Regions from separate parts of the Homo sapiens genome. Here region 1 is linked to region 2. Evidence: fine-mapped expression QTL. Tissue or cell type: blood mononuclear cells. Region 2 holds a variant in brackets; the other region holds the start of a gene. All regions are shown on one strand. Distances are from middle to middle.

Region 1 (15,795 bases), 24 kb after region 2:
GTGGCACGATCTCGGCTCACTGCAACCTCCGCCTCCCGGATTCAAGCGGTTCTCCCACCTCAGCCTCCTGAGTATAGCTGGGATTATAGGCATGAGCCAGTTTTGTTTCATTTTCTTGAGAGATTTTATTAATTTTTGATTAGGTATTTTATTTCTGTTATTTCTATTATTATTATTATTATTACTACTTATAGACAGGGTCTGGCTCTGTTGCCCAGGCTGGAGTGCAGTGGTGTGATCATAGCTTACTGCAGCCTCAAACTCCTGGGCTCAAGCCATCCTCCTGCCTTAGCTTCCCAAGTAGCAGGGATTACAAGCATGAGCCACTGTGCCCAACTTTTTTAAACTCTTCATTCACTGCAGTCAGGGCCTGGGGATCCCCACTCATGGGGAACAGTGTAGACTCACTCCAGATCCATTTGAGAGCAGGCCGGTGGCTCTAGTCCCCAGGTGATGCCTGGCCTTTCAGAACAGGTTTCCTTTGAAGATCTGCAGGTCTCCCACCCACCCCTCCTTTCTTTGAGGGTCCTTCACATCCTCCACTTACCTACCTTCACAGTGCCTCTAGTAGGAAGAGAAACTTGGACAAGAGTGGGTCCTGAGATTTTCTGTCACTCTTGATCTGCACGATCTCTCAGTCTACAAACATCCAGGGTTTGGCATTGACTTTTGTCCTCAAAGCAACTGATACTTTGTCTGCCTCTTTGGTTTCAGTTTAGGCTTCATTTTTTCTGCCCTTAGAGACTGCCTGTTCTTTCGAGTTCAGCCATACATTTAAACATGATTGCTATAATTTACCAAATATCTTCAGAAAACCAAAGTCTGGGGAATTTTTTTTTTTTTTTTTTTTTTAAATACAAGGTCTTGCTCTGTTGCCTGGGCTAAAGTACAGTGGCACAATCTCAGCTCACTGCAGCCTCAAATTTCTGGGCTCAAGTCATCCTTCTGCCTCAGCCTCCCGAGTAGCTGGAAATACAGGTGCATGCCACCACGTGGGCCCAGCTAATTTTTAAGTTTTTTGTAGAGATGAGGTCTCACATGTTGCCCAGGCTGGGGCTTTTTTAGACATAGTTTAATTAAGTTGTTCTTACCACACAGTGGGCATCAGGGGCCTTGGAAGGAAGGAACGTTCACAAGAAAAGTGACTCTGGCCAAGTGGGCACATCACTGGCCTCCCTGAACTTCAGTGTCCTGCTCTTTAAACCGTGGTGCGAAGTCCACCTGCAAATCCAGTTTCCAACATTTTCCAGAACCATCTGGCAGTGTCCGGGAAGGAGCTGGCCTCTCCAGCCTGGCCATGCTCCCCGATGGGGCTAAGCACCTTGTGAGGTGTGGCTCGTGTCCTGGTCTATTCCCAGTGGACTGTGGCCCTGTGAGGATGTGGCCACCTTCATCTGTCCTGTCTCCCCAGCACACCACAGGGCACTGCATCCTGGTTCTGGAAACGCTGCCCTGTGGCTCTTTCCAACCTCACATGCCTCGGCCCCTCAGGGCCTCCCCATCCCGGCACATGGGCCAGGCCAATCTTCTCCATCTTGGCAATGAGTCTTATCTCCTCAGGTCCCCCACCTCACCCCCTGACTCGCTCTTAGCTCTGGGCTGTATGGAGCGGAAGACCTGTGGAAGGTCACTGAGTGCTGGCCAGGTCACAGTGGACAAGCAGACGGGACACAGGAGGGGCTGTGTGGGTGCCTGTGGCCAGGCCATCGTGCTAGAGCGTCTGGCTGGCCAAGGCCAGCCCTGCAGTTCCTGCAGTTCCTTATTCGACACGCCCAAGTTCATTCTTGAGAGAAAACAGGGATTGCACTGGCGCCAAAGTCAAGGGCAGAACATAGAGGGAAGAGAAATGCCTGTGCCGTCCTGCTGCTCCCCATTCCCAGGGCACTGGCCGCTTCATTCCACACTGAGCCCCAGCCTGGGCTGTCCTGCTGCTCCCCATTCCCAGGGCACCAGCTGCTTCATTCCACACTGAGCGCTTGCTTCAGAACCCAGGCACCGAGGGCTCTGTTCCCTGCTGATAGCGTTCTTCTGTTTTGAGTTCTTGCTACTTTGGGATTCATATGGGCTCTATATTATTTTTAAAATTGTGCCATTTTAAACTTATTTCCCTCAGAGAAATGGAAGGTGAACTTGAAGTTATTTGGGAATCTACCTTCAGGGAAAACCGAAGAATCCGAGAACTTCTCCAGGACACACTCACGAGGACAGGCGTGCAGGACAACCCCAGAGCTCTGGTTGCCCCCAGCCTCAATGGCGTCTCTCAGGCAGACCTGCTGGACGGCTGCGATGTCTGCTCCTATGACCTGAAGTCTCATGCCCCCACCTGCTAGAATCTGCGGGAGCCCGTGGTGTAGCCTCCTCTGGCCTGAAAGGTCTGCCTCACACAGGCCTTCCCTGCAGGGCAGCCCATGGTGGCAGCCGGAGGTGCGTAAGCCCACTGAACGCTGCAGGGCAGGGAAGAAATAAATGGTCTCATAGTTTAATCCATTGATAACATTTTGCTTTATTTTTTAATTTTTTTTTTTTTTTAGAGCTAGGGTCTCACTCTGTTGCCCATGCTGGAGTACAGTGGTGCAATCATAGCTCACGGCAGCCTCAAACATGTTTGAGATCCTTCTGCTTCAGCCTCCTGAGTAGCTGGGACCTCAGGTGTGCACTGTCAGGCCCAGCTAATTTTTTTCTTTTTTGTTGAGATGAGGTCTTGCTATGTTGCTCAGGCTGGTCTTGAACTCCTGGCCTCAATCTGTCCTCCTGCCTTGGCCTCCCAAAGTGCGGGAATGACACGTGTGAGCCACTGCGCCTGGCCCATTGTGCTTTATTTTAATAACGTGCTGCTGAAATCTGTTTTAGCCAGGGCATGTTCTCTGGCCACATTGCCACTGAGATGAGTTCTATGACACCCACTGCTCTGGTGAGTAGGTGGCCTGCTGAGCAGGCCTGCCTTCCAGCTCCTAGATCTGCAGCTGGGAAGTGCTGGAAGGGTTGGGCGGGCAGCTGAGCCCTCGTGCCATGTGTCAGATGGGGAAGTGTCACCCGAGGAGCCAGGCCATGGCACCGGCCCTGATGATAGCTGTGCGTGAGCTCTGGGGGCCTTTTCTTGTTTGGTCAAAAAAAACAAGGTGCTGCTGCTGTTCATGCCCTCTAAGTTGTACAAACCTTTTCTGCCCTCTCCCCTAGCCCTTCTCTATCCTCCTGAGCAAGTACTTTATTCTCTTTTGTTTAGTTGTTACTTTTGTTTGTTTGTTTTGAGACAGGGTCTCACTCTGTTACCCAGGCTGGAATGCAGTGGTGCAATCACCACAGCCTTGACCTCCAGGCTCAAGCGATCCTCCCATCCCAGCCTCCTGAGTAGGTGAGATGACAGGTATACACTAACATGCCTGGCTAATTTTGTAAAAAAAAAATTTTTGTAGGCCAGCCATGGTGGCTCACTCCTGTAATCCCAGCACTTTGGGAGGTCGAGGCAGGCGGATCACCCGAGGCCAGGAGTTCGAGACCAGCCTGGCCAACATGGTGAAACCCCATCTCTACTAAAAATACAAAAATTAGCTGGGCATGGTGGTGGGTGCCTGTAATCCCAGCTACTTGGGAGGCTGAGGCAGGAGAATTGCTTGAACCTGGAAGGCGGAGGTTGCAGTGAACCAAGATCACGCCATTATACCCCAGCCTGGGCAGCCTGGGCAACAAGAGCGAGACTTTGTCTCAAAAAAAAAAAATTTTTTTTTTGGTAGAGATGGGGTCTTGCTATGTTGCCCAAGCTGGTCTCAAACGTCTAGCTTCAAGCAATCCTCCTGCCTAGGCCTCCCAAAGTGTTGGGATTATAGGTATGAGCCACCGCGCCTGGTCTGGGAAGGTAATTGATTCTGGAGCCACACAGCTCCCCACCCATGTAATGAGAGCCCTGGCTTTGAGCTAAGATAGAGTCCCTGCCCCACTGCCACCACCAAGAAGCATACCAGGGGGCCATGGTTCTGTCCCATGTGTGTTAGATGACGTGCCACCTCCTCAGGAAAATTACCCCAGCCGCTCAGGACCATTCAGTCCCAGGCATGCTGGAGGGACTTGGGGACATTGGGCTACAAAGGACCCTAACTGTGGGACTCAGGGGTGGCACCCTGCAGCATCTCCTTTTCAGAGCCCCTCGCAGTGAAGTCCTGCCTTGTTTCAGGTGGGAAGGAGGCCCCAGTACTGGTCCTTGGTCATGTGTAGAAGTTCTACGTGTGATCTTTGATTGCCAGACGGAAGGGTGAGATAGAAAATCATAGTTCTTTTATGACTCTATAAGCTTGTTCAACAGTTGAATCATTGTAATTTAATTTTATTTTACAAGCGGTAGAAAGACTCACTGGGATTGAAAACTGTGTATCATCTCCCTAGGAGATGACCTAACAAATAACTGTGATGCTATTTCAAAGGCATTTACGGCCGCTCTGCAGCCTCCTGTAGACAGGCTGACAGGCGGCGGCAGCCCAGCGTGGCTGCGCGGGGCAGGAGTGCTTGTCAGCAGGAATGCTGCTCCCGCCATCGTGACCTAGAGAACCACTGTTGACATCCCTGTCTTTCTGCCTTTTATGCAAACATTTTATTCTTTTGAGAAGTGTCCACTTTTGTTCTTATGTTTCTGCTTTAAGTTTTTCACACAGTGCAAACATACTTTGCAAGTATGGGGACTCCTGGATGGCACTGTGACCAGGGCAAGGGCAGGTGTCCCACAGACACTATCTTCTGCCCAGCCTCCTGCTGGGTGCCATAGGAAATGGGCAGAGAAGCCACGAGTCCAGGATGCCAAGGAGGGCGGGGCAGGCAAGGCAGAGAGGCACCTGGGTGCTTGTGAGATTCCAGGAAAGGACAGAAACATTGGGGTGCTTCTGGGAGGAACTGGCACGCCCCGGCCCTTGCAGAGTGGACAAGGTTTCAGGAGCTACAGAAGGGTGGAGAGGGCCCCCAGGAGCACAGCAGGCACTCAGAGCAGCAGGAGGGGGTTTGGTCAGAGCTTGGGTGGGAAATGAGGCCGGACTGCACAGAGGAGAACTGGGTCTGCTGGGAGGGGCTCCTCCTTCCCCATGCTGCAAGTGTCTGGTCTGAGCAGGGAACCCTTCTCTTTCTTGGTCCTGGTGAGGTTTCATACGGCATTGGAAGATTCCTGGTCAAGCAGCTGTAGAACATGACCCAGGCACGCGAGTGAGCCTTGCTGGCTTTGCCATTATTTAAAAGCAGCCCTGGGCATGGTGATGGCGCCTATGGTTTCAGCTACTCAGGAGGCTGAGGTGGGAGGATCACTTGAGCCTGGGAGGTTGAGGCTGCAGTGAGCTATGATCATGCCACTGCACTCCAGCCTGGGCAACCAGGTGAGACCCTGCCTCAAAAATAATACAATAAAAAGTAAAAGCAGCCCTGGGGAAATGGAGACAGTGGACAAAGCAGGCTGGGGCACCAGGTGTGCATGTGGGTGTGAGTCTGTCATGAGAGCTGTCCTGAATGCCCTTAACGCCACTGAACTGTATGCTGGAAAACAGTGACAACAGTGGATTTTGTTATATAGACAATTAAAAAAGAAATAACACCCAGGCCTGCTTCCTGAGTGTTTGTGTCATTTTACTTTCCCACCACCAACCTCCGCGCAAGTTCCGGTTGCTCCGCATCCTCATCAATGCTTGGTGGTGTTGTCAATAACTGTGTTGAGAGGACAGAGATTTAAGGCCGAGGGTGGCCTAGCATTTAGCCTCGAGCGCAGCTGTCACTGGCTCCTCACCCCCTCCCCTACCTGTATCGTTGGCGGGAATGAAAGGCACAGTCCCCAGTGTGGGTGGCTCAGGAGAGCCCTCCCTGGGCCCAAGCAGCTCTTCCAGCAGGGAGGGCTTGAGCCGGATACAGATCCCACAGCAGGAGGCTGAGCCTCTTGGGATGGGGCTGGGCTGACATCTGAATTCTTGAGTAAGACTGGAAACATCATCCACTCAAAACTTGGCTGGGCGGCATGGGGAGGGCTCAGTGTGCCCAGGTTTGTGGCACCTCTCTGCTGGGTCACAGCTGGGCAGGGGTCCACAGGTAAGGAGTGGCTGCAGCCAGGAGTGGGAGAGGGGATGGGTACAGCTTGTTAGGCCTCTCTTGGTTTTCTCAAGGTGTGAGTCCATGGCCCCAAAGCTGGGCAGGAAACCTGCTGCCCTTCCAGCCTCCCAGGCTTGGCTTTTTTTTTTTTTTTAGTTGAGACAGTCTCGCTCTGTCACCCAGGCTGGAGTGCAGTGGTGCGATCTCGGCTCACTGCAACCTCCACCTCCTAGGTTCAAGCAATTCTCCCACCTCAGCCCCCCGAATAGCTGGGATTACAGGGTGTGTCTCACCACGCCCATCTAATTTTTTTTATTTTTAGTAGAGACAGGGTTTTGCCACGTTGGCCAGGCTAGTCTCAAACTCCTGACCTCAAGTGATCCGCCCACCTCAGCCTCCCAAGGTGCTGGGATTACAGGCATGAGCCACCATCCCCAGCCTCAGGCTCGGCTCTTTTCCTCATTTTTGACTAGGGGTGGACTGGGTAGGAGGGTTTTGGAGAGAAAGAAGAAGGGCGGCTTTTGTAGTTGATATTCACCTGCAGGGCCCCGCTGGGCTGCTTTGCAGGCCCAATGTCTGCAAACAACAGGACAGAGGTAGTGAGGACCCAGGCTGGGCTATGGAGACTTCAAACCTACGGAGCGCATGAGGCTGCTTCCTGGAACTGGGCATGCCACCTGCTACTGAGGACCCAGGCTGGCTCCCCGCGTCTGTGCTGGGTGCTCTGGGCCGCCATCCCCTTGTTCCACAGTCCACCCGTGTGTCAGCACTCTACAGAGGGTATAGATGAGACAGGGAGAGTGCACTGAGGTGACAGCATTGCTGCCTTGGGTCATCAGGAGCCTGGAGCATCTATTTCACCTGGTCAGGAGGGTCCTGAGTATTTTATTAAAGAATAATTCTTTGAAAGTGAAGGGTCTGTGTGTAGTATATGTAGCATACCAGGGCTGGGTTGCAAGCAACAGAACTATACTGCCCAATGTTAAGGGAAAGAAGGAAATATTTTGGAAATGTACACTCTGTGGCTTCCACCATGTTTTGAGAAGGACAGAAGCTGGAATAGCCTTGGGGTGAGGGTCTCAGTAGTTGAACACCGTCAGCCTACCCTGTGCTTCACTCAGGTAGCAAATCCTGGGAGACAATGGCCTCTTGGCTGACCTGACATCCTGAGCCCTCCTGTGTGGCCAGAGAAGTGAGGTCTTTTGGTTGGTAGCCCACCAGTGTCCCACAGAAAGGGACAGTTCCCCCCAAGTTGTGGATGCTGGGCAGACAGAAACAAGATTACAAAAAATGGTAACTTCCTATGTTAGAGTCTCCATCTGTCACCCAGACTGGAGTCCAGTGGCACGATCGTAGCTCACTGCAGCCTTGAACTCCTGGACTCAAGCAGTCCTCCTGCCCCAGCCTCCCAAGAGTAGCTGGGACTATAGGTGCACACCATCATGCCTGGATAATATTTTTAAATTCTTTTCGTAAAGACAGGCGCTCGCTATGTTGCCCAGGTTGGTCTCAAACTCCTGGCCTCAAACAGTCTCCCTGCCTCGGCCTCACAAAGTGCTGAGATTACAGGCGCACAGCCACAGCACCCGGCCCCCAAAATAGTAACTCTTTATTAAAGATGTTTGATGACACAGAACCCTCTTTCCCCAAAATCAGCAGCGATCACAACTTTCATCATGTGTGGCCACCGTGGTTGAGAAAAGAGGCAGCGACCATGAATCGTGACGAGGTCGGTGGGGAAGGGAGCAGGATGGGAAGTCGTGTTTTGACAGCATGCTGCAACTGTCTTCCCCACGCAGGTTATTTAATGCAAAACCATATTACTTGGAACACATAAAAATGATGGACAAAGTTCGAAGGCAGAATTGTACTATTCCAATAGTTGTTGGATATATATAGATTGTTCCTAGATAAGAGTTTTGAAATTATGTTTATGCTTTCCTTGCTAATTGTTTTATGGCTAGACAGCACGTCCCTGACATCGAAAGGCTTTGCACATCGCTAACTCATCACAAGTTCTTCTGGTTGGAATTCAGGTAGTAAGGGAACAAACAACTCTTCTATCTGTGGTAGTATGCCAGTTATTTCTGTCTTTTGGGTCCCCCTCCAAATCCCCAACTGCTACCGTCAGCAGCAGTGGGAAGGAATACAAGACCGAGTGAACTTAATGAATAGGAGAAGGTGAAAACTTGAAGGCAGGTCTGGAACAAGCTTTCAGCGGTAAAGGAAGATTCAGCCTCTGCCTGAATGTTTGCCCAAGACCTTGCCTCTGTCACGAGGACAGTGAATTAGAGAACAAGGCACCCAGCTGGGCAGCCCAGAGGCTGTGCAGAAATGGACTGACACTATGGGATTAAAGACGTCTTTAAAACCATCACAGGAGGCCAGGTGCAATGGCTTACGCCTGTAATCTCAGCACTTTGAGAGGCTGAAATGGGAGGATCACTTGAGCCCAAGAGGTCAAGGCTGGAGTGAGCCATGATCACGCCATTGCACTCTAGCATGGGAGCAAGAGACCCTGTCTCAGACACAAACCATCACAGGAGAAGGAAATGTTGGGGCTCAGGACACACCACCCCCAAAATATGACTGTAGGAGACTAGATATATATCACCCCAAATTATACTTCTTTGGAATATTTTGAGCTGGTTATTCTGAGAAACTGCAGACACAACAGGTGTAGCTCTGAAAAGCTGCCCTTTGCAAAAGAAATGTATGTCATGAAGGAAATCTACATTAGTACAAGTATCTGTACCAGGAAGAGACAACTTTTATTACCTGAGAGACTTATATCTGCATAACAAGACGACCTTTATTCGCCATGCATTTCCTCCCCTCACCATCCCATTACTAGTCCCTACCTGCCCCAGAAGCCCCAAGCCCCTAATCCTTATATAGCTCAGGATGCTATATAGGGTTTAGTCATCTGGCCCTTCTTCAAGTCTCTTGTTTTGTGGGACTCAGTTGCATATACACATAATTAAAACAGTTTTCCTCCCATTAGTCTCAATTCGAAGCCCAACCAAAGAACCCAAAAGGGTGGAGAGAAGCATTTTACCCTCCCCAACTGAAATCAAATGTGCACCAAATATAAGATAAAATGTAGATGGTGTGAAGATCTTCACACTGCAAGCATTTTTGCAATCGGAAGGGAAAAAGCACGGGTTGAAAATGAAGGTCAAGAGTCTTTAGCAGAAACTTAAGAAATAGAGTGGTTGGGCGGGTGTGGTGGCTCACACCTGTAATCCCAGCACTTTGGGAGGCTGAAGCGGGTGGATTACTTGAGGTCAGGAGTTCAAGATCAGCCTGGCCAACATGATGAAACCCTGTCTCTACTAAAAATACAAAAATTAGCCGGGTATATTGTCACACATGTAGTACCAGCTACTCGGGAGGCTGAGGGAGGAGAATCGCTTGAACCTGGGAGGCGGAGGTTGCAGTGAGCTGAGATCATGACACTGCACTCCAGCCTGGGTGACACAGCAAGTCTCAAAAATAAATAAATAAAATGGTAAAAATGACAGTAGGATTTGCGCTTTGGGAGGCCGAGGCAGGTGGATCACTTGAGGTCAGGAGTTCAAGACCAACCTGGCCAACATGGTGAAACCCCATCTCTACTAAAAATACAAAAATTAGCCAGGCATGGTGGTGGATGCCTGTAATCCCAGCTACTCAGGAGGCTGAGACAGGAGAATCACTTGAACCCAGGAGGCAGAGGTTGCAGTGAGCTGAGATCGTGCCACTGCACTCCAGCCTGGGCGACAGAGTGAGGCTCCATCTAAAAAAAAAAAAATTGACAGCAGGGAGGTGAAACTTCAGTCACATGGCAGAAGCACTGGATACACAATGAACCAATGGTCTTCAAGAACTGAGGAAAATTTTGCTTTTTAAATGAAATCCGTATTATTTTCCATGAGGAAGAGCTTATGAGAATTACTTGAATACTTTCTGTGTATTCAAGGGAGGGAGAGGGTGGGACTGCGGTGAAAAACACAACTTTAAGAAACAGGCTTAAGAAATGCTCACCGTGGACCCAAAATGAACTGAAGTGGAGGTTTCTGACTTAACAAAGGACCCTCACATCCCGATGTTCCAGACTCGGCACTTGGAAGAGGCCCAGGAAGACCAGAGGGCTGGTCCCGGACATTCATGGAACATGCAAGTTCAGTGTGTTCCGTGAGGAGGCGCCTGTTGCTCGCCCTGCGTCGCAGGTTCAGACCCTGATCCTGGCAGTGCTGCCTGAGCCCATGTGGGTAGTGGGTGAGGTTGCAGGGCTGTCTGGCCCCAGCGGGGGACCACTGCCCCACCCTGATGTCCTCACGTGGTCTCCTGTCAGCCTGCCAGGAGCACTTTTGACCCAGGGGGTATTCTGTGGTGTTTTGCAAACATGGATGTGCCAGGTACTATGATGAGTGCTGCAACATTAGGAGGAGTGACCCCAGCAAGCCGGTGGGCAGGTTCTGTCTAGGGTGGCAGGACCTGCCACTAGCCTCTCTGCTCAGGGCTCTGGGCATGGCAGGCAGGTAAACAGGTGGGCCCTCCCAAGATGGGAGGTGACGAACTTCTAAATCAGGACCGTGCCTCTGGGACAACAAGGGTCCCTGTGCTCTGCAGACGGCTTTCAGAGAAACCTGTGCCTCTCTCAGGTCTGCTTGCCCCAAACTGCTCCCAAACTGACCCCCAGAGACTGGCCCAGCTCCTTCCATCCCTGACCTTTGCTTCCATCTGATATCTGGGATGCAGTTAAGTTTGGCCCAAGGCAAAGCTACCAGAGTTTTGGCTGAAGGTAACAGCTACGATGCTTCAGATGCAGTGCTTATGCTGTGCCAGGCTGTCTCATAAGGTCTCATAAGGTGCTTCCTTCCCTATCTGAAAGGGCTTCGTGCTGACCCCTGAGGCTGCCGCCTGAGCCTAGGTCCAATCGCAGTGCGGGAGAACCTCTGCTCCCTCCCAGAGAGATCCAGACCCTGGCAGCCCTGGATGCGGACCGGAGCTTCCTGGCCTTGTGTTGCCTGTCCCCCTCCGTTTCCCCGAAGGGGAAGGTTTTGTGTCCCTTGTGATGAGCCAGGACATGGCTACGTGAACAGCACCACAGCCAAACCTGATGGGCATTTGGCCGCAGCTGCAGGGAGGACACGAGGCCCTGCATTGCCTCAGGCCTGCTTGTGATTCCAAGTGGTGAAGCCCCATCACTGGTAAAGAGGAGTGGGACGGGCTCAGCCGCTCTCACCTGCTCAGCCAGAGGCAGGCCCTTGGCTTGGGGGAAATTCCTGGGCGGGGAGGAAACTGACCAACAGCTGAGTTACGCACACACAGCGGTTCCTGTTTGAGCTGCCTGACTTGGGTTTTAAATATAGCCTATTAAGGCAATTAGCGAATTGGTTCCAAAGTTTATCTCCTCTGATTCCCAAAGATAAAAGAAGGCATAATTTATTTTATCTTTAGGTAAAAAGTGTAGACGATTTGGGACCATCTGGTTTTAAAAAAATAATCTGACCTAGACACAAATGAACAAAACAAAAACGGTTTTGGAGAGAAATTGGTGTTCCTGACCCTCCCCTTTTTTGTGTGGCGTATCTAAGCTTCATTGCAAAAAAAAAAAAAAAGGTGTTTAATAATTACCCTTATTGACCTCTGTACCTTCTGGACTTCCTTTGCTCCTGGGCACAAGACATGGCCATTTCTAGGGTTGGACCGTGCAGGCACGGGCGGTCAGCTGGGCCGCAGCTCCTCCGGCTCTGCAGGGTCACGGAGGAAGGTAAGTAAGGTCAGTAGGTGATAGAAAGGCTCATGGCTCTCCTGGCCGGGGCCTGGACAGATAATTTATTTAGAGAGAGGGTACAGGAGTGCATGGTTTTCTCCTAGTTCAGTCTGGAACTGGGTTTCCTCGGCAATGTTTTCTTTCCTTTCATCACTCAATGAAAAAGTACCTGGCCAGGCGTGGTGGCTCACCCCTGAAATCCCAGCCCTTTGGGAGGCCGAGGTGGAAGGACTGCTTGAGGCCAGCCGGGGCAAATAGCAACACTCCCGTCTTTATAAAAAATATTGTAAAAATTTAAAAAGTACAAAGAAAAAGTACCTGTATTGTGGATCTGTGATGTATGGGAGTGCCTTTAATCTTGGGAAGGAATTATAAGACAGACACTCCTTACCTGGACTTGATTCTGATAAATACATTCCACAATATTTTCATTTTTTAATTTTTTATATATATATTTTTTGAAACAGAATCTCGCTCTGTGGCCCAGGCTGGAGTGCAGTGGCATGATCTTGGCTCACTGCAGCCTCTGCCTCCAGGGTTCAAGTGCTTCTCTTGCCTCAGCCTCCCGAGTAGCTGGGATTAACAGGCACCCACCACCACACCCAGCTAATTTTTTTTTTTTTTTTTTTGCATTTTTAGTAGAGACGGGGTTCGCCATGTTAGCCAGGCTGGTCTCAAACTCCTGGGCTCAAGTGATCCACCCACCTCGGCCTCCGAAAGTGCTGGGATTACAGACCTGAGCCACTGTGCCCAGCCCGGGATGTTGTTAAATATTTCTTTTTACTTTTGAAAAAAAATGAAGTTGACCATAGAGGTAGAATGACTTTCAAGGCACAGGCACGTGGGCCAGGAGGCTCCCGGGGCCTGTCTGGGAGAGAGCTAAGCAAGCAGCTGAGCTTTGGAGAGCAGCGGGGAGCTGTGTTCCCCTGCCTGGACAATGTTAATGACTGACTTTGACTCTGGGGCCCAGCGCATGAGCCCTGAGGGACTGGCAGCGGCCCCCACCTGCAGCAATAACCAACACTGTGCTTTTGCAGCCAGCTCCCCTAGTCCAGGCCGAGCTTGCACTTGCGTCTTGTCTGCTGCTGCTGAACCAAGATTTAGCTGTGCGCCCTCCTTGCAGTCTCCTGGAACCAGCAGGAGGAAACATGGGGGATACTGGCCTGAGAAAGCGGAGAGAGGATGAGAAGTCGATCCAGAGCCAAGAGCCTAAGACCACCAGTCTCCAAAAGGAGGTAAGGCGGTCTCTGGTGGGGCAGGCCCTTTGCAGGTTAGGCAAGGGCGTCTGAACGAGGGGCGCAGGCAGTGAAATCCGGGCCGATCCCTAGTGACACGGCAGAAGATGTACTCTTTGATTTGTGAAGTACATCTTTAAAGGGATAATCTCTGGACTTACTTCTCTTTCCCTCTCGCCAGGGAATTCTGCATCTTCTTTTTTTTTTTTTTTTTTTTGAGATGGAGTGTTGCTCTGTCACCCAGGCTAGAGTGCAGTGCTGCCATCTCGGCTCAATGCAACCTTCACCTCCCCGGTTCAAGGGATTCTTCTGACTCAGCCTCCCGAGTAGCTGGGATTACAAGCACCCGCCACCATACCCGGCTAATTTTTGTATTTTTAGTAGAGACAGGGTTTCACCATGTTGGCCAGGCTGGTCTCAGACTCTTGGCCTCAGGTGATCCTCCCAAAGTGCTGGGATTACAGGCGTGTGCCACTGCACTCGGCTGCATATTCTTTTTTTTTTTTTTTTTTTTTTTTGAGACAGAGTCTTGCTCTGTCACCCAGGCTGGAGTGCAGTGGTATGATCTCAGCTCACTGCAACCTCCGCTTCCTGGGTTCAAGCAGCTCCTGAGTAGCTGGGACTACAGGCATGTGCCACTACGCCTGGCTAATTTTTGTATTTTCAGTAGAGACGAGGTTTCACCATATTGGCCAGGCTGGTCTCCAATTCCTGGCCTCAAGTGATCCGCCCACCTCGGCCTCCCAAAGTGTTGGGATTACAGGCATGAGCCAACTTGCCCGGCCCGCATATTATTTTAAGTTCATAAATAGGTGCTTTTGTGTGTTGAGCAAGTGTCTAGACGGGCCAGTATTTTTGTTCAAACTAATGGCCTTTCCAGGAATGGTCAGAAAGGGCGTTCTTTTTAAAAATTTTTAAAAAAATTTTTTTAGAGTCAGGGTCTTACTCTGTCACCCAGGCTGGAGTGCAGTGGTGCAATCATAGCTCACTGCAGCGTCAACCTCCTGGACTCAAGCAATCCTCCTGCCTCAGCCTCCTGAGTAGCTGGGACTACAGGAGCACACCACCATGCTCTGCCAAATTTTTAACTTTTCAAAAAAATTCTTTCTGTAGAGTCAGTATCTTGCTGTGTTGCCCAGGCTGGTCTGGAACTCCCGGGCTCAAGCGATCCTCCCACCTCAGGCTCCCAAAGTGCTGGGATTATAGGCGTGAGTCGCTGTGCCCAGCCAGAGAGGGCGTTCTGATGGTTGAGTCCCCTCTAAATGCCTGTCCTCCTTATATCTGAATGGCTGTAGTGATGGGAAGTACTGCCCCCAGCATAGCCTGTTCTGTCTTAGAGGCATCTACCAGGGACAGCTGCTCTGAGTTGGGCTGCAGTGAGCAGCTGGGGCTGGCCCTGGGCCTGCAGGGAAAGGGAGCTTGGGGCTGGGGGGAAGGCAGAAAGGAGCTCAACACAGCACACTGCGCCAGTCCCAGGCAGTTGGGAGCAGCAGGTGCTGAGCATGGAGGCGCAGGGAGGGCTTCAGGCTCCTAGGATGAGGAAAGGCAGCTCCAGGTGAGCTCAGGATGGCTTCCGCTTCCAGGGCAGAGGTGTGGGCAGGGCCTCCGAGAGCTCCCATGCCTGGCAGCAGAGGGGATGGAGGAGGGACGGCACCAAGGCTTTAGGGCTTGACCGGAGGGCTGGCAATGGCCTGAATGGCTTGGCCTGGGACCCCCAGGAGGTAGACGATGGGCTGCAGCACTTTCCCTCTCTGCCAGTCTCAGGCCTGATCTCAGGAAGGGCCTCTTAGAACCCTGGTGGGCCCCAGTGGCCACAGAGCACAGCTGAGAAATCCCCAAGATGTGTCTTCTGAGCTGGGGACAGGTGTGGCGGCACACGCCTGTAACCTTAGCACTTTGGGAGGCTGAGGTGGGAGGATCCCTTGAGCCCAGGAGATCGAGGCTGCAGTGAGTCATGATCGCGCCATTGCACTCCAAGCCTGGGTGACAGAGCGAGACCCTGACTCTAAAAACCAAAAATCTGAGCTGGGTCTACTCCTCAGTCAGGCAGCTTCAGGGCGAATGCAGACCTCACCCACATCAGAACCCAGGCAGTCCCTCAGCAGGAGGGAGGATTCTGGAGCCAAACTGCCAGTCCTGGGCAGGGCTGAGATGAGGAGGAGAGCTGAGCCCATCCCCGCCCTGTCCTGGAAGTGCGCCCTGGCCCTGAAAGCAGACGCTGCTCCCCAGGGATCCCACTGGTGTGTGCAGAGTCCTCAGGGTGGCAGCCTGCAGCTGGGAGCCCCTCATCCCCTGCGATCTGACTCCAAGCCCAGCTTCTTCCCAGACAGGTGAACATGGGTGCTGGAAACTTCAGGCTCTGGAGATCTGGCCGGGGCTGCTTCTGAGGACGAGTGTTATGAGTAGGGCTTGAGTTGGACTTTTTTTTCCTCCTTGATTGGTGTGTAATTTACATACAGTGTAATGTGCAGGTTTTTTTTTTTTTTTTTGAGACAGTCTCACTGTCACCCAGGCTGGAGTGATTGTAGTGGCTCACTGCAACCTCTGCCTCATGGGTTCAAGAGATTCTCCTGCCTCAGCCTCCTAAGTAGCTAGGAACAGGTGTGCACCAAAATGCCTGGCTGATTTTTGTATTTTTTAGTAGAAACGGGGTTTCTCCATGCTGGCCAGGCTGGTCTCCCACTCCCAACCTCAGGTGATCCGCCTGCCTCGGCCTCCCAAAGTGCTGGGATTACAGGCATAAACCACTGC
Region 2 (15,795 bases):
AATTCTATCTGTAGAAAACAAATCTACAAATCATTAAAAATAAGAGGTTTTAGCAAAATTGTTCAAAACAGAAAATTTATAAAAATTAATTGTATTTCTTTGTAGGAAAAAAATGTGTAGAAAATGGTATTTTGGGCCAGGCCTGGTGGCTTACACCTGTAATCCCAGCACTTTGGGAGGCTGAGGCAGGTGGATCATGAAGTCAAGAGATCGAGACCATCCTGGCTAACAGGGTGAAACCCCATCTCTACTAAAAATACAAAAATTCGCTGGGTGTGATGGCGCATGCCTGTAGTCCCAGCTACTTGGGAGGCTGAGGCAGGAGAACCGCTTGAACCTGGGAGGCGGAGGTTGCAGTGAGTGGAGGTGGCGCCACTGCATTCCAGCCTGGTGACAGAGTGAGACTCCATCTCAAAAAAAAAAAAAAGGAAGAAAGAAAATGATATTTTGAAAACTAAGGTAATGATAGGCTATCATCATGAGAAAAAATTTTTTTAATTAAAAGGAAGGAACCATCGACAAAGCTTCACAAATAGATGTGGAAAGATTTACAGTACTTCCGTTGGGAAAATTATGAAACTTTATTGATTACATGATTTCACTGGGTGAAGAATTCCAAGCTGACAGGTTTTTGGTAGTTTGTGGGTTTTTTTCCATTCAGTTTTAAAGATGCTGGCTGTTGATAGTCTTTTGGCTTGCGTCGTTTATGATGAAAATCTGCTGTCACGGTTATCTGTATTCTTCTGAAGATAACGTGTGTTTTCTCTGAGGCTTCTTTTAAGAATTTTTCATTGTCACTGTTTTTCAGCATTTTAATTGGGATATGCCTTAGCATGGTTTCTTTCTTTCTTTCAGACCCTTTTTTGCACAGGGTCTGGCTCTGTTGGACAGGCTGGAGTGCAGTGGTGCAATCACTGCTTGCTCCAGCCTTGACCTCCTGGGCTCAAGTGATCCTCCTGCCTCAGCCTCTCGAGTAGCTGGGACTACAGGCATGTGCCACTGCTCCCGGCTAATTTTTAAATCTTTTGTAGAGACAGAGTCTTGTTACGTTGCCCAGGCTGGTCTCAAACTCCTGGCCTTGAGGGAGCCTCCTGCCTTGGCCTTCCAAAGTGCTGGGATTACAGTGGGGGACCCCACACCCGGCCAGCATGGTTTCTTTACTCTACATGAAGTTCATTAAGCTTCTTGGGGCTATCAGTGTGTATTTTTCATCAAGTTTGGAAATCTTTTGGCTATTATTTCTTGAACGGTCTCTTCTGTTTTTCCCTCTCACCTCTCCTGGACTGCTTGATGTTGTCCTGTTGACTGTTCTGTTCACTTTTAGCCCACACTTGTTTCTCTCTGGGCTTCAATCAGACAGTGTCTATTACTATCTCTCTTCAACTTCACAAATCTATCCTTCTACAATCTAATCTGCTGTTAGTCCCATCCAATATATTGTTCACTTTGTGTAATGATTTTTCCCATCTCTGTAAGAAAGATCCATTTGAGTCTTTTTTGTATTCTCCGTCTCTGTCCCCAGCATGCTATTTTTCTCTTCTTTCTCAAATGTAGGAGCATGTTTTTCTAAAAACCTTTGTTTGCCAACGCCATCATCTCTCTCACTTCTGAATCTGTTCTGTTGATTTTTTCCCCTCCTGATCATGGATCATATTTTATTGCTTATTCTCATGCTTGATTGGGTGCTGGATGGTGTAGATTTTATGTTACAGGATGTTAGACATATTGCATTGCTTTAAATAGTGTTAGATTTCATTCTGGTGCACACTTAAGCCACTAGAGAATTGTTGGATTATTTATTTATTTGTTTACTTTCTTTTCTGTTTTCTTTTTTTTTTTCTTTTTGTAGAAACAGGGTCTTGTTATGTTGCCCAGGCTGGTTTTGAGGTCCTGGGCTCAAGGGATCCTCCCACCTCAGCCTCCCAAAGTGCTGGGATTACAGGTGTGAGCCACCGCATGTGGCTAAGCTGGATTCTTTCAAAGCTGATTTTTGTTAGGGTGGGCCCAAAGCAACCTCTAGTCTTAGGGCTAAGTTAGCCCCACTGCTAAGACAGTAACACTCTTCTAAGGATTCTATCCAATATCTCTTTTATTATAAGGCCTTTCCATTCTGACTGGTGGGGTATGAACTATTTCCTGTTCTTTGTGCATGTCAGAAATTGTTCTGCCTACTGTTTGTAGTGTTTCTTTCCTAGGCTTTACGCAGTTTCCTCTCACACACGGACAGATCAGTACCCAGCCAAAGACCCTTCAAGGTCTCTAGAGCCCTTTCTCGCTCCGTGAAACGCCCTCTGCCCTGCCCTGGAAATTCCAGCTGCCTTGACCTTCCTGCTCTTGGATCTCTGGCTCCTGGGCTCAGCAGGTGTCTGCCAGACAAGAAGGTGGAGGGAGCAGTTGCAGCACTCACCTTGTTTTCCCTTCCCTTTGGGATCACAGTCCTGCCTCGCCTGTTGTCCAAAGTCCGAAAACTGTTGTTTCTTCTGTTTTGCCTGGTTTTTTAGCTGAGGAGTAAATCTGGTCTCTGTAACTCTATCTTGGCTGAAAGCAGAAGTCTTGGTATTTTCAACATTCTTCTTTAACCTTTTATCGTTAATCCAGTTCAACAATTTATCCAATAAAATAATAGTTAAATAAGTTTTCAGTGAAATAAATGAATCTTGGATTTTGTATGTTTTACAGTTACAGTTGACAAACCTTAAAATCATATATTGTTGTGTATTCCTGCTGCGCTGGTAAAGGATGCAGCCCCTATCCCAAGTTACTCTCTATGCAAATTCGGTAACACCCAAGCTGGTGTTCAGCAAAATAAGTGCCCCTTTGTTCTTTGTTTCTTTTGTCTTAAAAACATGTATTTATAATTACATTATTATGGAAAAATTGTTTTAGCAGGTTTTTTTTAAATAAATCTGGCATTTATAACCATGTAAAAAATAGAGCTATCTTAGATTTTTTGGAAGGAATAGGGTATACACACACATACACACACACACACACACACACACACACACACACAGAGAGAGAGAGAGACAGAGAGACAGAGACATAAGCCAAAACTGTGGGAGAAAAAGAGGTTAGATCATCACCATCAAAGAAGTTTGTGGCCAGGTGTGGTGGCTCATGCCTGTAATCCGAGCTCTTTGGAAAGCTAAGGCAGGAGGATCACTTGAGCCCAAGAGCTCGAAACCAGCCTGGGCAACATAGTGAGACTTCATCTTTACAAAAAATACAAAAATTAGCCAGGTATCATGTGTGCCTGTGGTCCCAGCAACTTGGGAGGCTGAGGTAGGAGGATTGCTTGAGTCCAGAAGTTCGAAGCTGCAGTGAGCCATGATTGTGCCACTGCACTCCAGCCTGGGCAACAGAGTGAGACCCTGTCTCACACAGACACACACGTAGTGTGTGCCCAGCCACACCCTCTCTCCGGTGGTCTAGCAGCTTGGTCCCAGGTCCTCTAGGGCCCAGGATGGGGAGATGTTTCCACAGAGGCATTCCAAGTGACCCACCCAGGGGCTGGAGGGCTGGGCTGTTATCACTCATCTTCCTCGTTATGTGACTGCCCCATTTTAGCTTCATTGTGCTGGATACGAGCATGTAATGTTTTTGTCCTTCAGCCAATTACAGAAGGAAGAAGAGAAAGAAAGGGCTGAGATGGAGGAGTTGATGGAGAAGCTGACAGTCCTGCAAGCGCAGAAGAAGAGCCTGCTGTTAGAGAAGAACAGTTTGACAGAGCAAAACAAAGCACTGGAAGCCGAACTTGAACGAGCACAGAAAATCAATAGGTTTGTGTCTTTTTTTCCTTTAAGTTGCTTTTATTTTCAATAGTTAAAAAAGACAAATGGTCTGGGTACAGTGGCTCACTCCTGTAATCCCAGCACTTTGGGAGGCTGAGGCAGGCGATCATTTGAGGTCAGAAGTTCAAGACCAGCCTGGCCAACATGGCAAAACCCCGTCTCTACTAAAAATACAAAAATTAGCCAGGCGGTAGTGGCACGCACCTGTAGTCCCAGCTACTCGGGAGGCTGAGGCAGGAGAATCATTTGAGCCTGGGAGGCAGAGGTTGCGGTGAGCCGAGATCACGCCACTGCACTCCAGCCTGGGCAACAGAGTGAGACCCTGTCTCAAAAAAAAAAAAAAAGACAAATGAAGAATATTCCATTTCATTTCTTTTAATCTTTTCTTTTTCTAATAGTGGCTATAAAATGGAAAAGGGTAATTGAAATTACTGGATATCAGATTATAATAAGTATTGTTGCTGTTAACCAATGTTAACCAACATTTCTAAAGTCTATAATTGAAATATGGTTGATGGTCATATTGATAACCCTAAGATTCAAAGTTCTAGGAGCTCTTTTCTAACCATTTCCTAAAAGTCTACTTTGGAATTTCTGGATCTTTTTTTCGAAAGTGCCTTTTAGAACATAAGCCAGAAAGTTAATAGAATAATACTTAATGAGCCTATGGGCCAGGTGTGGTGGCTCACACCTGTAATCCCAGCACTTTGTAAGGCTGAGATGGGCAGGTCACTTGAGGTCAGGAGTTCAAGACCAGCCTGGCCAACATAGAGAAGCCCTGGCTACTTAAAAAAATATATATATGTATATATACAGAAAATTAGCTGCGTGTGGTGGCGCATGCCTCTAATCCCAACTACTCAGGAGGCTGAGGCATGAGAATCACTTGAACCTGAGAGGCGGAGGTTACAGTGAGCCATGATCATGCCACCGCACTCCAGCCTGGGTGACAGAGCAAGACTGTGTCTCAAAAAAAAAAAAAAAAATGAACCTATTCATTGTTAGACATTTGCAACTCCTCTTATTCACTTGAGTTGGGGTCACTAATTATGCTTGGTTTCAAATTAAATTCAGTTACCTCTTCTCACCTTGAAACTTAATAGAAGATTTAGGTTGCTGAAGAATAGCATTTAAATGCTAACATACTTGCTGTTTTTGTAATACAGATATTCACCATGCCCTAGCCATGTAAACTAATGGGCTTTTTATTCTACCATTTGGGGTAACTCTCTAGGAAATCTCAAAAGAAAATTGAGGTCCTCAAAAAGCAGGTGGAAAAAGCCATGGGGAACGAAATGTCTGCTCATCAGTACCTGGCAAACCTTGTTGGCCTGGCAGAAAACATAACCCAGGAACGTGACAGTCTTATGTGTTTGGTAAGTTTCCTGAAGGTTACATCAAGTAAACTGCGAGTTAATATGCAAATGTGATTTTAAGAGTATTTTAAAAAATGATCTATTAAAAGCTTTATCCAGGCATTCCCTGACTTACGATGGATGGTTCCACCTAGGAATTTTCGACTTTATGATGTATTTATTGGGAAGTAATCTTATTATAAATTGAGGAACTCCTTACAACTCATAATGAAGTTACCATTGATACTGAATGCCCATTGCTTTTACACCATTATAAAGCTTAAAAAATGTAGATTGAACCATCATAAGTTGGGAACCATCTGCTGTATTGCCAGGATTAAATGCATTTTTGATATACAGTTTGTTCAATTTATGATGGGTTTATCAGGATGTAGCCCTGTTGTAAGTCTAGAACCATCTGTATTTTAAAATTTCAACTGTATTACCCTGGCATGGTGCTGTGTGCCTGTAGTCCCAGCTACTCAGGAAGCTGAGGCAGGAGGATCATTTGAGCCCAGGAATTCAAGACCAGTCTGGGTAACATAGTGAGAACCCATCTCTACAAAAAAAAATTTAAAAATTAGCCAGGCATGGTGGCATGCACCTGTAGTCTCAGCTACTCAGGAAACTCAGGTAGGAGGTTCATTTGAGTGTGGGAGTTGAAGGCTGCAGTGAGCTATGACTGTACTACTGCACTGCAGCCTGGTAGACAGAGAAAGACCCTGTCCCTAAAAAAAAAAAAAAAATGCTAATTAAACCAGTCTTGAGATACCATTCTCAAAAAATGTTACAAAACATTTTTTTCTTTTTAAACAATTGTATCTTTTTATTAATGCATAATATTTTTACATTTTAAAAAATATTTTAAATATATTTACATGCACATGTGGGGGTACATGTGATATTTTGTAATGTGCATAGAATGTGTAACAATTAAGTCAGGTATTTGGGCTATCCATCACCACAAGCATTTATCTTTTTTTTTTTTTTTTTTTTAAGATGGAGTCTCACGCTGTCACCCAGGCTGGAGTGCAGTGGCGTGATCTCGGCTCACTGCAACCTCCGCTTCCTGGGTTCAAGACATTTTTGTGCCTCAGCCTCCCGAGTAGCTGGGACTACAGGTGCATGCCACCACACCTGGCTAGGTTTTGTATTTTTACTAGAGACAAGGTTTTGCCACATTGGCCAGGCTGGTCTTGAATTCCTGGCCTCAAGAGATCTGCCCACCTCGGCCTCCCAGAGTGCTGGGATTACAGGTGTGAGCCACCACACCCAGCTGAGCATTTATCATTTCTGGGTGTGGAGAATATTTCAAGTCCTCATTGCTAGCTATATTGAAATATACAATACTTTGTTGTTAACTTTAGTCAACCTACTCTGCTGTCGAACATGATAACTTATTTCGTCTATCTAACTGTATGCTTATACCTATTAAGCAACCTCTCTTCATTCAGCCACCTGCCCCCCAGCCCCCCACAAACACACCCATACCCACATGCATCCTAGCCTCTGGTAGCTATCATTATAATCTCCACCTCCATGAGGTCAACTTTTTTAGCCCCCACATATGAATGAGTACATGCCATATTTATCTTTCTAGGTCTGGCTTATTTTACTTAACGTAATGGCCTCCAGTTCCATCCATGTTGCTGTAGATGACATGGTTTTGTTCTTTTATATGGCCAAATAATATTTCATTGTGTAAATAGAGCATATTTTCTTTATCTGTTTGTCCATTGATGGACACTTAGGTTCATTTCATATCTTTGCTACTGTGAATTGTGCAGCAATAAACATGGGGGTGTAGATATCCCTTTGATATACTGATTTCCTTGCCTGTGAATAAATACCCAGCAGTTGGATTGCTGGATCATATGGTAATTGTTTTTAGTTTGTTGAGGAACCTCCACACTGTTTTCCATAATGGCTGTACTAATTTACATTCCCACCAACAGTGTATGAAAGTTCCCTTTTCTCCACATCCTCATCAGTGTAATAAAATAAAGTAAAATTTCAGGCCAGGCATGGTGGCTCACTCCTGTAATTCCAGTACTTTGAGAAACTGAGGTGGGAGGATCACTTGGGTCCAGGAGTTTGAGACCAGCATGGGCAAGATAGGGAGAACCTGTCTCTACAAATAACGAAAAACTTAGCCAGGCATAGTGGTGCATGCCTGTGGTTTCAGCTACTCAGGAGGCTGAGGAAGGAGGATCACTTAAGCCTAGGAGGTCGATCATTCCACTGTACTCCAGCCTGGGTGATAGAACAAGACCCTGTCTCAATTTTAAAAAAGAAAAGAAAAAAAATTTCAGGACCCTCTAAATGTATTATGCAAAGGGGGAAGTTAAGCCCTGGAGACTGAGCAATGTAGCTTGTTGGCTATTCTGCTTCTTATAGGTTAGTTCTCTTCCTCATTGCTGTTGTTTTGTAAATGACTAGGAGAAACCAGAGACCAGACCTTCTCCTCCTTCCAGTCACTCATCTATCTATAAAGATGAACTGCTTGCTTCCTTTATTGTTCTTCTACCTAAGACCAGATGGCACCCATGACCCCATGACTGTTATATCTTCAATGTGGAATGTTAAATATACCTTTCCTGAAAGAAAAAGACTGCCTCAACTAATTAGATTGTTGTAACTATGCATTCAGTCTTACATAGAAAGACACTGAAATTCTGTTAAGCTTTCCTACATGTGGTCCTATTAGCGATCCCAAACTTGTGCACTTCAGAACACAGACTTCTGTTCTTTGGAATCTACTTCCTGGGTGGCCTGTCCTCAAACTTTGTGCTTGAATAAACTCTCTTTAAACTAGAGTCTCACCCTTTTGATTATTTTAGGTTGACATCAGCCTCTGTTATTTTTTGTCTTTTTAATGATAGCCATTCTAACTGGAGTAAGATGATATCTCATTGTGGTTTTGATTTGCATTTCTGTGATGATTTGTGGTGTTGAGCATTTTTTTCATATGCCTGTTGCCCATTTGTATGTCTGCTTTTGGGGAATGTCTATTTAGATTCTTTGCCCACTTTTTAATGGGATTGGTTTTGTTTGTTTGTTTGTTTGCTATTAAGAGTTGTGTTCCTTAAAAAAAAAAA[G/A]AGAGAGAGAGAGACAGAGAGAACTGAGTTCCTTGTATATCCTGGGTATTAGCCTCTTGTTGAATGAATATTTTGCAAATATTTTGTCTCATTCAACAGGTTGTCTCTTCATTCTATTGATTGTTTCCTTTGCTGTACAGAAGCTTTTTAGTTTAATATAGTTCCATTTGTCTATTTTTGTTTTTGTTGCCTGTGCTTTTGGGGTCTTAGCCATGAAATTTTTGTCTAAAGTCCTAGAGTGCTTCCTCTATGTTTTCTTCTAGTAGTTTTATAGTTTCAGGTCTTAGATTTAAGTCTTTAAACCATTGTGAGTGGATTTTTTGCATATGATGAGAAATAGAGATCTAATTTCATTTTTCTGTATATGGATATCCAATTTTCCCAGCACCATGTATTGAAGAGGGTGCCCTTTCCCCAGCGTATGTTCTTGGTGCCTTTGTTGAAAAGCAGTTGGCAGTAAATATGTGGGCTCGTTTCTTGGTGCTTTATTCTGTTCCACTGGCCAATGTGTCTGATTTTGTACTGATACTGTGCTATTTTGGTTACTATAGCCTTGTAATGTATTTTGAAGTTAGGTAGGGTAATACCTTCAGCTTTGTTCTTTTTGCTCAGGACTGATTTGCCTTTTCAGGCTCCTTTTTGGTTCCATATGTATAAAGTAGGATTGTTTATTCTATTTCTGTGAAAAACGTCATTGATGTTCTGATAGGGATTGCACTGAATCTGCTGATTGCTTTGGGGAGTCTGGTCATTTTAATGATGTTAATTCTTCGCATCCATGATCATGGGATGTCTTTCCATTAGTTTGAATCAGCTTCATTGTCTTTCATCAGTGTTTGTAGCTTTCCTTGTAGAAATCTTTAACTTCTTTGGTTAAATTTATTTCTAGGTATTTTTTTGTAGCTATTGTAAATGGGATTGCTTTCTTGATTTCTTTTTCAGGGAATTCATTATTGGTGTATAGAAACACTACTGATCTTTATACATTGATTTTGTATTCTGCAACTTTACTAAACTTTTTTTTTTTTTATCAGATCTAAGAGTCGTTTGGTGAAGTCTAGTTTTTTCTAAATATAAGATCATGTCATTGGCAAAGAGAAAAAATTTGACTTTCTCTTTTCTAATTTGGATGACTTTTATTTCTTTCTCTTGCCTGACTGCTCTTGCTAGGACTTCCAGTACTGTGCTGAATAAGAGTGGTGAAAGTAGTCATCCTTAACTAGTTTCAGTTCTGAGAGGAAAGGCTTTTTGCTTTCCCCTACTCGGTATGATGTTAGCTGTGGGTTTGTCATATATGGCCTTTATTATGTTAGGTATGTTCCTTCTATGTCTAGTTTATTAAGTGTTTTTATCACGAAGGATGTTGAATTTTTATCCAATTTTTTTCTGTTTCCATTGGTGTGCTCATATGGTTTTTATCCTTCATTCTGCTGATGTGATCTATGATGTTTATTGATTTGTGTATGTTGAACTGTCTTTGCATCTCTTGATCCCACTTGATCATGGCATATTATTTTTTTGATGTACTGTTGAATTTGGTTTGCTAGTATTTTGTTGAGGATTTTGCATCTGTGTTCATTAGGGATATTGGCCTGTAGGTTTCTTTTTTTATTGTGGCCTTGTCTGGTTTTGGTAGCAGGGTATTGCTGGCCTGAAAGAATTAGAGAGAATTCCTTCCTCTTAAATTTTTTTGGAATAGTTTGAGGAGAATTTGTATTAGTTCTTCTTTGTAAGGTTTGTAGAATTTGGCAGAAAAACCATCTGGTCCTGGACTTTTCTTTGTTGGGAAACTTTTTATTAATGATTCAATCTCATTATTTGTTAATGGTCTGTTCAAGTTTTCTATTTCTTCCTAATTCAATCTTGGTAGTGTTGTCAATGGGCCAGTTCAGGTTCTTGACTTCACAAAAGAATTTGAGAGCTAGTCCAAAGTAAGAGCAGGTGAAGAAGTCTATTGCATAGCAGAAGTCACTCTGAGAGACAGAGTAAGAGACAGACCCTAATATTTTAAGGGGATGCCCTTTACAGGAGCTGTGCATGCATATTCATAAAGTATTGGTGAGGTCAAGTGTGAAAGGTGGAACTATGGTTGGTGCATGCACTCAGCATGTACATGCTCTAACATGTATCACATGTATAATTAGCATATAAAACCTCCACCTAGGGTGTGTTTTTTACTATTAAAATGAGGAAAAGCTCACTGTAAGCTAAACCTTGTGCCTAGCTGTACATGCAGGACCCTGGAGATATCTTTAGCCCTGCCCAGGCAGGAATTGGTAGTTAATAGCTTCTTGGGCTTTTGGTGTTGATTGGCTGGAGATTGGGGAAGCTACATTACGATTAAGGGATTTTTGTTCTTTTTCCTAGGCCATATTGGGTATCAGGAACGTGTAACCACCTGGTAGTTGGCTGGGATCCTGTGGGACTACTTATCTTGCTAAGATAAGTTAGGTGCTGACATACAAGGGCGCACATGAAAGGAGCCCACTGAGAAAGGAGCATGTGGGGCTTCACTAAAGGGGACAAGTCAGTATGGTCTCATAACTTTACTTATCCTGCCTCTGTAGGTTGTATGTTGTCCAGAAATGTATCCATTTTCTCTAGGTTTTCAGTTTGTTAGCAGTGGATTTTCACTATGTTGCCCAGGCTAACCTTGAACATCTGGATTCAAGCAATCCTCCTGCCTCCTGCGTCACTGGGACTATAAGAACGTTTCACCCTGCCTCACTTAGTTCTGCTCTGATCTTTGTTTTTTCTTTCTTTCTACTAATTTTGGGTTCTGTTTGTTCTTGTTTATCTAGTTCCTTGAGGTACATCATTAGGTTGTTTATTTGAAATCTTTCCACTTTTGTGATGCAGGCATTTATTGCTATAAACTTCCCTCTTAGCATTGCTTTTGCTGTATCCCATAGGTTTTGGTATGTTGTGTTTGGTATGTTGTGTTTCAGTTTTCATTTGTTTCAAGAAATTTTTGATACCCTTCTTAATTTCTTCATTGACCCAATCATTGTTAAGGAACATGTTGTTTAATTTTCATATGTTTGTACAGTTTCCAAAGTTCCTCTTGTTATTGCTTTCTAGTTTTAGTCTACCATGGTCTGAGAAGATACTTGACATGATGTCAGTATTTTTAAATTTGTTGAGCTTGCTTTGTAGCGTAACACACAGTGTATGCTAGACAATGTTCTATATCTGATAAGAATGTGTATTCTGCCGTTACTGGATGAAATGTTTTGTAAATGTCTATTAGGTCATTTTGTCTAAAGTGCAGTTAAATTCAATGTTTCTTTGTTAGTTTTCTGTCTTGATGATCTGATTGCTGAGAGTAGGGTGTTGAAGTCCCCAACTATTATTGTATTGTAGTCTATCTCCCCTTTTAGATCTAATAATATTTGCTTTATATACCTGGATGCTGTGGTGTTGGGTGCATATATGTTTAGAGTATATGTCCTCTTATTGAATTTATCCCTTTATTATTATAATATTACCTTCTTTACGCAGTTTTTGACTTAAAGTTTGTTTTATTTCATGCAAGTATAGCTACTCCTGCTTGCTTTTGGTTTCCAGTTGCATGGAATATTTTTTTATCCCTTTACTTTCAGTCTGTATGGATCTTTACAAGTGAAATGTGTTTCTTGTAGGCAGCACATAGTTGAATCGTGTTTTTTTTTTCTGATATCCATTCAGCCAGTCTGTATCTTTTAAGTGGAAAATTTAATTAATTTACATTCAAGGTTACTATTGATATGCGAGGACTTACTCCTATCATTTTGTTGATTGTTTTCTGGTTGTTTTGTGTATCATTTTTCCTCTTATTTATCTTATTATTCTATAGTGATAACATTTGAGTTCCTTCTCTTCCTCATTTGTGTGCTTGCTCTACTAGTTAGTTTTATCATTTCATGTGTTTTCATGATAGTAGATATCGTCCTTTCAATTCCAGGTGTAGGATTCCCTTAAGCATTTCATGTAGGATGGGTCTAGTGGTGACAGATTCTCTCAGTGTTTGCTTATCTGTAAGTCTTTACTCCTTCATTTATGAAGGATAACTTTGCTGGGTATAGTATTCTTGGCTGGCTGACAGGTTTTTTTTTTTTTTTTTTCTTTTAGCCCTTTGAATATATCGTCTCATTCTCTCCTGGCCTGTAAGGTTTCTTCTGAGAAATACACTATTAGCTGGGCACAGTGGCTCACACCTGTAATCCCAGCACTTTGGGAGGCTGAGGCAGGCAGATCATCTGAGGTCAGGAGTTCAAGACCAGCCCGGCCAACATGGCGAAACCCTATCTCCACTAAAAATGCAAAAATTAGCTGGTTGTGGTGGTGCACATGCCTGTAATCCCAGCTACTTTGGGGGCTAAGGCCAGAGAATTGCTTGAACCCAGGAGGCAGAGGCTACAGTGAGCTGAGATAGTGCCACTGCACTCCAGCCTGGGCAACAGAGTGAGACTCCATCTCAAAAAGAAAAAAAAAGGAAAAAGAAAAAAGAAAGAAATACGCTGTTAGTCTTATGAGAGTTCCTTATATGTAACTAGACATATATATATATATATATATATATATATATATATATATATGTCTAAATATATATTCTAAATATATATGTCTAAATATATGTATGTCTAAATATATATATGTCTAAATATATATGTCTAAATATATGTATGTCTAAATATATATATATATATTTAGAATTCTGTATTTGACTTCTGACAGTTTGACTATAATGTCGTCGGGAGAAGACCTTTTTGGGAACCTGAGCTTCCTATATCTGGATTTCGAAATCTCTTGCTAGACTTGGGAAGTTTTCAACTTATTTTGTTGAGTAGGTTTTTTATGCCATTAAACTTCTTTTCACCCCTTGGAACACCAGAAGGCATGCTTCATTTTTTTTTTTAATTTTTCTCTCTTTCTTTTGCTCCTTTTCTCTCTCTCTCTCTGTTTCTCTCTCTCTTTCTCTCTCTCTCTCTTTCATCTCACTGAGTATTTAAAAAGCAAAAGAAATTCTTTCTCCTGCTTGATCTAGTCTATCACTGAAGCTCTCAATTGTATTTTTTATTTTATTCATTGAATTCTTCAGTTCCAGGATTTCTGTTTAGTTCTTTTTTATATCTGTCTCTTCGATGAATTCCTCATTCATATCCTGAATTGTTTTTCTGATTTCTTTATAGTGTTTATTTGTGTTCTGTTATATTTTACTGAGCTTCTTTAATATCATTATTTTTAATTCTTTTTCAGGCATTTCATAAATTTCTTTTTGTTGTTGTTGGAATCTGCTGTTGGAGAATTATTATGTTCCTTTGGAGGTGTCATATTGCCTTGCTTTGTCATGTTTATTATGTCCTTTCATTGATTTCTGCAAATCAAGTGTAACAGTCACTTATTCTAATTTTTTGTATTGGTGTATGTGTGTGTGTGTGTGTGTTTGTGTGTGTGCCTGGGGCAACCAACATGGTGGGACACTCCCTGCAGGCTGTGGTGAAGAGGATGGGGTGATCCCCAGGCCCTGGGTGGTGTGCTTGGGTTGCTTTGGCAATGGAGGCATTGGGCAGGGGAAGCCTGTCTTCAGGGCACATGCACGTGCGCAGGGCTCTGCGGCTGGAGGGGGTGGGGTTGCTGTTAGTGACAGGGGCCCCAGCCAGGCAGGTTTCAGGATTGGGGAGCACTTGCTTCGGCTCCCTTGCTCTCATGGGCAGCCTCTTCAGTGCACTGCACCACACTCTTCTGGGTATGCAGGACACTGTAGGGTAGAGTGCTGGGGACCCGCTGCTCCACTGGGTCCACCTGGTGCCTCGCCGCTGCAGCCTTCCGGGTGCATGTGGGGAGATGTCCGTGGCGCTCCAGGGATGTGGAGATGCAGGGGCTGCTGGGTCCCAGGGCAGGATGTAGTCTGGTGGGGGCTGGACTCTCAAAATGATGCCACTGTGCTGCAGCTACCTGGAACCTGGGTCAGTGTGGGACCCAGCGTGAGCCCCCGCTCTGGAGCAGTGGGGTCACACAGACTCCAGGGAGCTCCCTGCACCAGTCTCAGGGCCTGCAGGGGTTGAGGGGCTCCCCTGGGGCTGGGATCACAGGAGTGTGTGGTGAGAATGTGGACCCCTGGGGATCTCTCACCCTTTCCCGACACAGGGGAGCCTCTCCAGGCTCCCGACCAAGACCCATCCTGTCTGGGCTGTCGTCTCCCTCTCCTTCATTGCGCGGGTGCCGCCCAGCCCTCCCCTGTCGAGTTCCCGTGGTCTCCGTTAGATGTTCTCCGTGCGATGACTGACTCCTGTTTTGGTTCTCCTGTGTGGAGGAGTCTGACATCCTGTGCCTCCAGCCAGCCACCCTGAGCCTTCCTCCTGAAAACAGGTTTTTGTTTGTTTGTTTGTTTGGTTTTTGAGATGGAGTCTCGCTGTGTCACCCAGGCTGAAGTGCAGTGGCACAATCTTGGCTCACTGCAACCTCCGCCTCCTGGGTTCAAGTGATTCTCCTGCCTCAGCCTCCTGAGTAGCTGGGACTATAGGCGCATGCCACCACACCTGGCTAATTTTTTTGTAGTTTAGGTAGAGACGGGATTTCACCATGTTAGCCAGGATGGTCTCGATCTCCTGACTTTGTGCACCTCAGCCTCCCAAAGTGCTGGGATTACAGGCGTGAACCACCGTGCCCGGCTGAAAACAGTTTTTTAAATTACAATAATTGCTGATAAGAGTGTGGTCAGTCTGGCCATACTTTACTGGTGACTTCTGAGTCCTTTCCAGAGCCTTCCAGAAAGCAATTTGACTTTGACACAGCATGGATGGAGCCTTGAAGGCACTCAAGTGTCTGGCCCAGCGCTGCCCCTCTGAAAGGCAGCTGAACCCTGGCACTCTCTGTGGTAGCATTAAGTGCCCATTTTCCCTTCTGCTGCTGTGTGTGCTGGCCTTCCTCACCGGGACATGGAGAGGGCAAGAGAAAGCTTGCTGAAAAATCTAAAGGGCCGAACAAACCCTTTCATCCAGAGATTTCCTGGGAACCTGCCCGCCACATGTTGAGGCCACTGTAAACGCAAAGCCGTCTTGTTTGTAGGGCAGGACGTGCAGGGAATCCCGGTCCCTGGGGTGCAGGCCCCATGCCTCTCCCATGGGCCAGGGAGTATCACAGGCTTCCACAACGAAGTCAGGATCCTCCCAGACCCTCAGACACTCTCCTCTCGGCCCACCCCCAATATTTGTGGGCCCAGGATGGAAATACAAATGGAGGCCACTGACTGTCTCCAGATATTTAAAAGTTACTTGTTGAGCCAACAAACTGTTAGTAAAATGTGTTCCCTTCTCCTGCCTTGACCTTTATCATGGCCTGGCTGTCAAGTTTAGAATCCTCAGGCCCCTCAGAGTCAAAGCGGAAATGTAGGGTGTGGGAGAGCTGCTTTCTTCCATCCTGGCTCCACCTGTCACCAGGGACTTTTGTGTCCAAGCAGACACCCGCTATCCATGCAGGGAGAGGCATGGGAGCTGCCAGGATGTCTGGGCAGGGCTCTTGGTCCTCTGTAGCCAGGTCTGGAGTGGACACATCCCTACAGCCTTGCAG

The links.
Region 1: SLC7A9 starts here. The variant in region 2 is fine-mapped to the expression of SLC7A9 in blood mononuclear cells (TOPMed, PIP above 0.99).

The regions. Positions count from the first base shown.
Region 1 is chr19:32,865,697-32,881,491 of GRCh38, reverse strand. SLC7A9 (solute carrier family 7 member 9) reads left to right here and starts at 11,725. Exons shown (of 13, transcript NM_014270.5): 1 at 11,725-11,806; 2 at 12,847-13,044. The coding sequence starts at 12,958. It overlaps CEP89 (centrosomal protein 89), which reads left to right. Exons shown (of 19, transcript NM_032816.5): 19 at 2,114-5,567. The coding sequence ends at 2,330. RefSeq lists enhancers at 5,451-6,336, 10,375-10,897, 10,898-11,420, 12,862-13,437.
Region 2 is chr19:32,889,229-32,905,023 of GRCh38, reverse strand. It overlaps CEP89 (centrosomal protein 89), which reads left to right. Exons shown (of 19, transcript NM_032816.5): 15 at 3,612-3,779; 16 at 5,026-5,167. Among named protein-coding and RNA genes, the nearest start is that of SLC7A9, 27 kb to the right of the region's middle. The variant G/A (reference allele first, on the strand shown) is at 8,245.